Regions from separate parts of the Homo sapiens genome. Here region 2 is linked to region 1. Evidence: fine-mapped expression QTL. Tissue or cell type: macrophages. Region 1 holds a variant in brackets; the other region holds the start of a gene. All regions are shown on one strand. Distances are from middle to middle.

What was found. PIP is the estimated chance that this variant, and not a neighbour inherited with it, causes the effect. A credible set is the group of variants that fine-mapping cannot tell apart.
Region 2: LINC01291 starts here. The variant in region 1 is the best candidate, but not a certain one, in a credible set for the expression of LINC01291 in macrophages (Nedelec 2016, PIP 0.68).

Annotation. Positions count from the first base shown.
Region 1 is chr2:75,705,389-75,708,313 of GRCh38, forward strand. GCFC2 (GC-rich sequence DNA-binding factor 2) reads right to left here. Exons shown (of 17, transcript NM_003203.5): 2 at 1,135-1,263. Among named protein-coding and RNA genes, the nearest start is that of GCFC2, 4.1 kb to the right of the region's middle. The variant T/C (reference allele first, on the strand shown) is at 1,647.
Region 2 is chr2:74,907,568-74,910,492 of GRCh38, forward strand. It overlaps LINC01291 (long intergenic non-protein coding RNA 1291), which reads left to right and starts at 1,394. Exons shown (of 5, transcript NR_189601.1): 1 at 1,394-1,606.

The DNA of each region.
Region 1 (2,925 bases):
CGAGGTGGGCAGATCAAGAGGTCAGGAGATCGAGACCATCTTGGCTAACACGGTGAAACCCCATCTCTACTAAAAATACAAAAAATTAGCCAGGCGTGGTGGCCTATAGTCCTAGCTACTCAAGAGGCTAAGGCAGGAGAATGACGTGAACCTGGGAGGCGGAGCTTGCAGTGAACCCAGATTGCGCCACTGCACTCCAGCCTGGGCGACAGAGTGAGACTCCATCTCAAAAAAAAAAAAAAAAAAAAAGAAGCACAGAAGCACTTATTACTATATTACAAGCGTCATAAAATATATTTTAATAATTTTATTTCAATATAATTTGTTTCCTCTACAAAGCTATGTATTTTACTTTATTTTCTCAGAAGGGATCTTAGGCTTCACTAGACTGAAAAAGGAGTCCACGGCACAAAACAAGTTATAAACCTCTGTAAGACGCCAGATAAATATTTTTCACTTTGCGGGCCATAGGGTCTTTGTGGCAACTTCTCAACTCTGCTGCTGCAGTGCAAAAGCACCCACAAATATTAAGTAACTGAAAGACTGTGATTGTGTTTTAATAAAACTTTGTTTACAAAAACAGGTGGTGGGCCAGATTTGCCAACCCCTGAACTAGACTGATCTTTCTAAGACACAAAAACATTCATGTCATCTGTATAAAATTTTCAGTGGTTCCCTAAGCCCTGTATAATCTGACTCCAACTTGTCCTTCCTGTTTTCTTTTCCTTAAACTCGCAACCAAATACTTTCAGCCAGAGCTATTTTTAGCTTCCTGCACATATTACATACCTTCCCTAGAGTTTCAGATATGCTACATCCTATACCTGAAACATCCTCCCTGACAAATTCTTACCATCCTTCAAGTATCAATGTCAATCACCCAGTATAGCACAGTGATTAAGAAGAATACAGGCTCCAGAACAAACTGGGTTTGAATCCTAGCCCTGCTACTTATAAGCTGTCTGACCTGTGCATGTTAAAATGTAATAAAAATGAGCAATTTTGGCACTCTGACAATCATCATTAATGACCTACTTGCCCCATGTCACTAGAGTTTGTTATGTCATTAATAACTATATCAAAAACACTATATTAAAAATAAAATTCTTAACCAAAATCATACAAATTACTAACCTGTTGATGAAAGTTCTTTTTCTCCAAGAGAGCTAGAACTGTCAGAAGACAAACCCTGATCATCCTTACTTTCTGAGGAGTGATGTATTTTATCCTCTTCATCTGTGGACACATCAAGGGTTCTGGATTCTAACAGGACATTTTAAAAATACAACAAAAAAGAGTCAAAATAATGGAATTATTAATTGAAATTCTGAACAACACATGGCATATGTATAATACGGTGTTTTAATCCTAGTCCATATATTAAAGTAGACATATTGATCTTCCTCCAACTTTCTTTCTTAAGCAACTGAATGATCTACTAAGTGTACAAAGACCCTATTTGTATTATCTAGGCATCTAATAATATATTTCCAAAAGTATGCAATGAGAAAAGGGAAGGAGGCATTAGAGAAAAAAAAAGCGACAAAAAATGAAGTAATATTTAGAATAGTAATGATTGTGAATAAGTAGAAAAGAAAAATATTTAATGTATACTATGTACTAGGCACACTGAAACCTGTTTTACA[T/C]GACTTATTTAATACCTGTAATTCTATAAAGTAAATGCAATTTCTGATGAGTTCACTAAGGATTGAGAGGATAAAGAACACCAACTCGGGCAGTGGAGAAGCAGGGCTGTCAACCTAATCCCAGGCAACTTCAGAACTTAGGCTCTCTTTATAGTATGCCATATTTCAACGGCTGGTGGCGAGAAATATTGTAACGAGCACTTTGGTCAATATTAAACCATGGGTCCATCTTTTCAATGCATGATTTGGGAAGGTAAATAGTCTGTTAAATTCAATTAATCTGTTAAACAAAGATAACACCAAGATAAAACCCACAGGGGTGTTGTGAAAATTGAATGAACAAAATAAAGGAATTCTTGACATTATTGACAAGAAAGGATTTCTTAATCCACAATAAATTTGCAATCTTTATGAGTAACCTTAAAACATAAGATTACATACTACTCATTAATTTTAATTTTCTACCTTAGTTAGAAGACCTACATACAGTTCAAAAAAGGCTGGAGTAAAATCAAAATTTAAAACACTAAAAAAAATATAGCTGCAGCTCACATCTTTCTTAGATATTGTCATTTATGACAACCCATACCTGTTTCCAAAGTGGATTAACACCAAAGCAGTGGGTCTTAAAGCATGGTTTATCAATCCCTGGAGGTCCTTGAGACTCTTTCAGAGAGTCTGTGAAATTAAAACTACTTTCATCACAATAATAACATGTTATTTGTTCTTTTTACCATGTTGATATTTATATAATGAAGTAAAGGCAGTGATGGGTAAAACTGCTAGGCTCTTGGCATGAATGAATCAATTTGTAGTAGCAGTTATGGTATTTTTCCTTACCTCACATGGCAGAAAAAAGCCAGTTGCTCTTCATGAACTAATTAAAAAATTGTTATTTTATTAAATTTTGACCCTTGAGTACACATGTTTAATATTCTTTGTGACAAAATCAAAGTATTCATAAGGCACTTTTGCTGCATCTTGAAATGCAATGGCTGCCTTAAGGAAAAGCATTTGTGTGACTGAGTTGCAAGCTGAACTAGACGTTGTTTTTAAGAAGCATCACCATTTTACTTGAAAGAATGACTAACAAACCGATTATTCAGACATGGCTATCTGACAAACATTTTCTCAAAACATGAGCCCGGTTGTGCCTATCAATAAAATGAGAGATTTCAAGTGAAAATTGAGATTTTGGAAAACTTATATTCTCTACTGTGAACCTAACAGCTTTCCAGTACTTACAGACTGATTAATCAGTGGTAATACTATGATTTTT
Region 2 (2,925 bases), 800 kb before region 1:
CGGGTGCTTGTAATCCTAGTTACTCAGGAGGCTGAGGCAGGAGAATTGCTTGAACCTGGGAGGCGGAGGTTGCAGTGAGCCAAGATTGAGCGACTGCACTCCAGCCTGGGTGACAAAGCAAGACTCTGTCTAAAAAAAAAAAAAAAAAAAAAGAGGAAGAAGCAAAAGCAGAAACCTCTGATAAGCCCATCAGATCTCGTGAGACTTATTCACTATCATGAGAATAGCACAGGAAAGACCAACCCCCATGATTTAATTGCCTCTCCCTGGGTCCCTCCCACAACACGTGGGAATTCTGGGAGATACAATTCAATTTGAGATTTGGGTGGGGACACAGCCAAACCATATCACTTATTCAGAAATACAATGAGCATGTAATTTTTTTTTTTTTTTGTATTGGCCCAATCTAGTTTTGAATCAAGATTACATTAGCTTCATAAAAAAGGCTGGACAATTTTCTCTTTTTCACTTGCTGCAACAATTTGTGAGATAAAAAAATCTGTCTCTTGAAGACAGGTAGAGCATATTTGTAAAGCTATCTGGGCTTTAGGGAGAGGAGCTATGATTAGCGTTTCAATTTCTTTAATGCTTGTTAGTCTATTCAAGTATACTATATCTTGGCATTTAGTATTTCCCCACAAAGTTGTCTATAATATCTAAAGTTTCACATTATTTGGATACAGTTGTTCATAATACTCTAAAAACTTTTTTTTTTTTTAGAAAATTTCGAATACATTCAAAAGTGGATTGATAAACCTCTGGTGCTTCAGCAGTTATCAATTCATGGCCAATGTTGTTTCATCTAGAGCCCCGCCCACATCCCCTCACAATTCTTTGAAGTAAATCTCTGACATTGTATAATGACACCTGCAAATGCTCCGGTAAAAATCTTCAAAAGACAAAGACTCTTTTTCAACCTGTTCACAGTGTCATTACCTCCTCCCCAGATAATAATTTATCAACATCAAGAAACTCCCCATTAGTGTTTAAACTTCCAATTTTCTCACAAATGTCTTTTTTTTTTTTTTTGGCGGGGGAGATAACTTTGTCATTTGAATCAGAATCCAAAGTTTACACATTGCACTTGGCAGACCTGCCTTTTAATTTCTCATAACCTCTGTTTCTTTTCAGCTTTCTGTTTTCCTCCCAGAGTTTCCTATGATTGCATCTCTAGTTTGACACGTTCCCTTGTCCTCTGTATTCCTGTAAATTGGTAGTTAAATCTCAATCTGATACAGAAGGGCTGGGCTCCCAGCTAAACCCCACCCCTAAGCCAGGAACCACCGCCCTAAGTGAAAACAGGTGATCCTGGTTTTCCAAGCAAATGTTGCCTTTTTGGCCTGCCCCGCCCCTATCCTGTGCCCATAAAAGACTTCAGCTGGCAGCGCAATAGAAGCGGCTGAGCGGCGAGGATACACGCAGCTGAGTGTCAGAGACAATGGATAGATGCGGCTAACTTCAGACGGTGCGGCTTCAGAGAGGGACCTGGCCGGAGACTGCCGGGCTTCAGAGAAAGCTCACGTTCCCATCTGCTTTCCAGCCTCCCTTTCCGCTGAGAGCCACCCACCGCTCAATGAAGTCTTCCGCATTCATCACCTTTCAAACGGTTCGTGTGAGCTGATTCTTCCTGGACGCCAAACGAGAACTCAGGTGCCAAGAGGGCAGGGGCTACCACCCTGACTCTCCACTGAGCTGGTTGGCACTTGGCCGTACCTGGACGGCAGAGCTGAAAGAGCGCTGGTTGAAACATGCATGGACACTGCTGTGTAGCATGCATAGAGCCTGCTCCCTCCAGAGAGGAGCGACCGGCGGGTTCTGGGGTTCGTTTGCTTGGGTTCCTGCACCCGCTTGCTCTTACGCTCCCCCATGCGAGGAGTGGCCAGTGACGGGCTGAGTGAAACGAGCCACTCCAGTTCCTGCCCATGAAGGGGGTCAAAGGAACTATCCCATCTCAAATCCATGATCAGGTTTAGGTTTGATATTTTGACAACGTTACTTCAGAAGGGTTACTGCAATTACATTATTCTTTCATCTTTGTTGTGCCTGTAATTGTTTTTCCCCCTTTTTCATTGTAGGTTTTATCTATTGCAATTTCATTTTCTCACTCTTTTTCTTTTTTTCTTTTTTCTTTTTTTTTTTTTTGAGACGGAGTCTCACTCTATTGCTCCAGGCTGGAGTGCAATAGTGTGATCTCGGCTCACTGCAACCTCCGCCTCCCAGGTTCAAGCGATTCTCCTGGCTCAGCCTCCTGAGTAGCTGGGATTACAGGTGCGCACAACCACGCCCAGCTAATTTTTGTATTTTTAGTAGAAATGGGGTTTCACCATATTGGCCAGGCTGGTCTTGAACTCCCGACCTTGTGATCCGCCCGCCTCAGCCTCCCAAAGTGCTGGGATTACAGGCGTGAGCCACCGTTCCTGGCCTTTCTCACTCTTTTTCTCGATCAGTCTTGCCAGAATTTTATTTCACTAATCTTTTCAAATAATTAGCTTTTGATTTGGTCATTTCTTTCTGTTTTTTCCTTCTCCATTTTATTGATTTTTGCCTTTCTTTACTTATTTTTCCTTCTTGTTTCTTGGCTCTGTTGATCTTATTCCAACTTCTTGAATTTACAGTTTTACTTGTGTTTGAAGTTATAATTTCTATCTACTGCTGTAAGTCCTACACATTTTGATACATTGCCATTTCATTGATACTCTAAGCAACTAGCAATTTGCTATACTTTTTTTTTTTTTTTACCTTTTAAAATATATTATTTAGTTTCCAGTAATATGTTTGTATAAACTATCCCTCTGTTATTCATTTCTAATTTTTTGGCATTCTGGTCTGAGAACATGATCTGTATGACATTGATTCTTTGGAATTTATCAAGTAATCCTTTGAGGCCTGGTATACGGACAATGTCATAACCCTTATATATGTGCT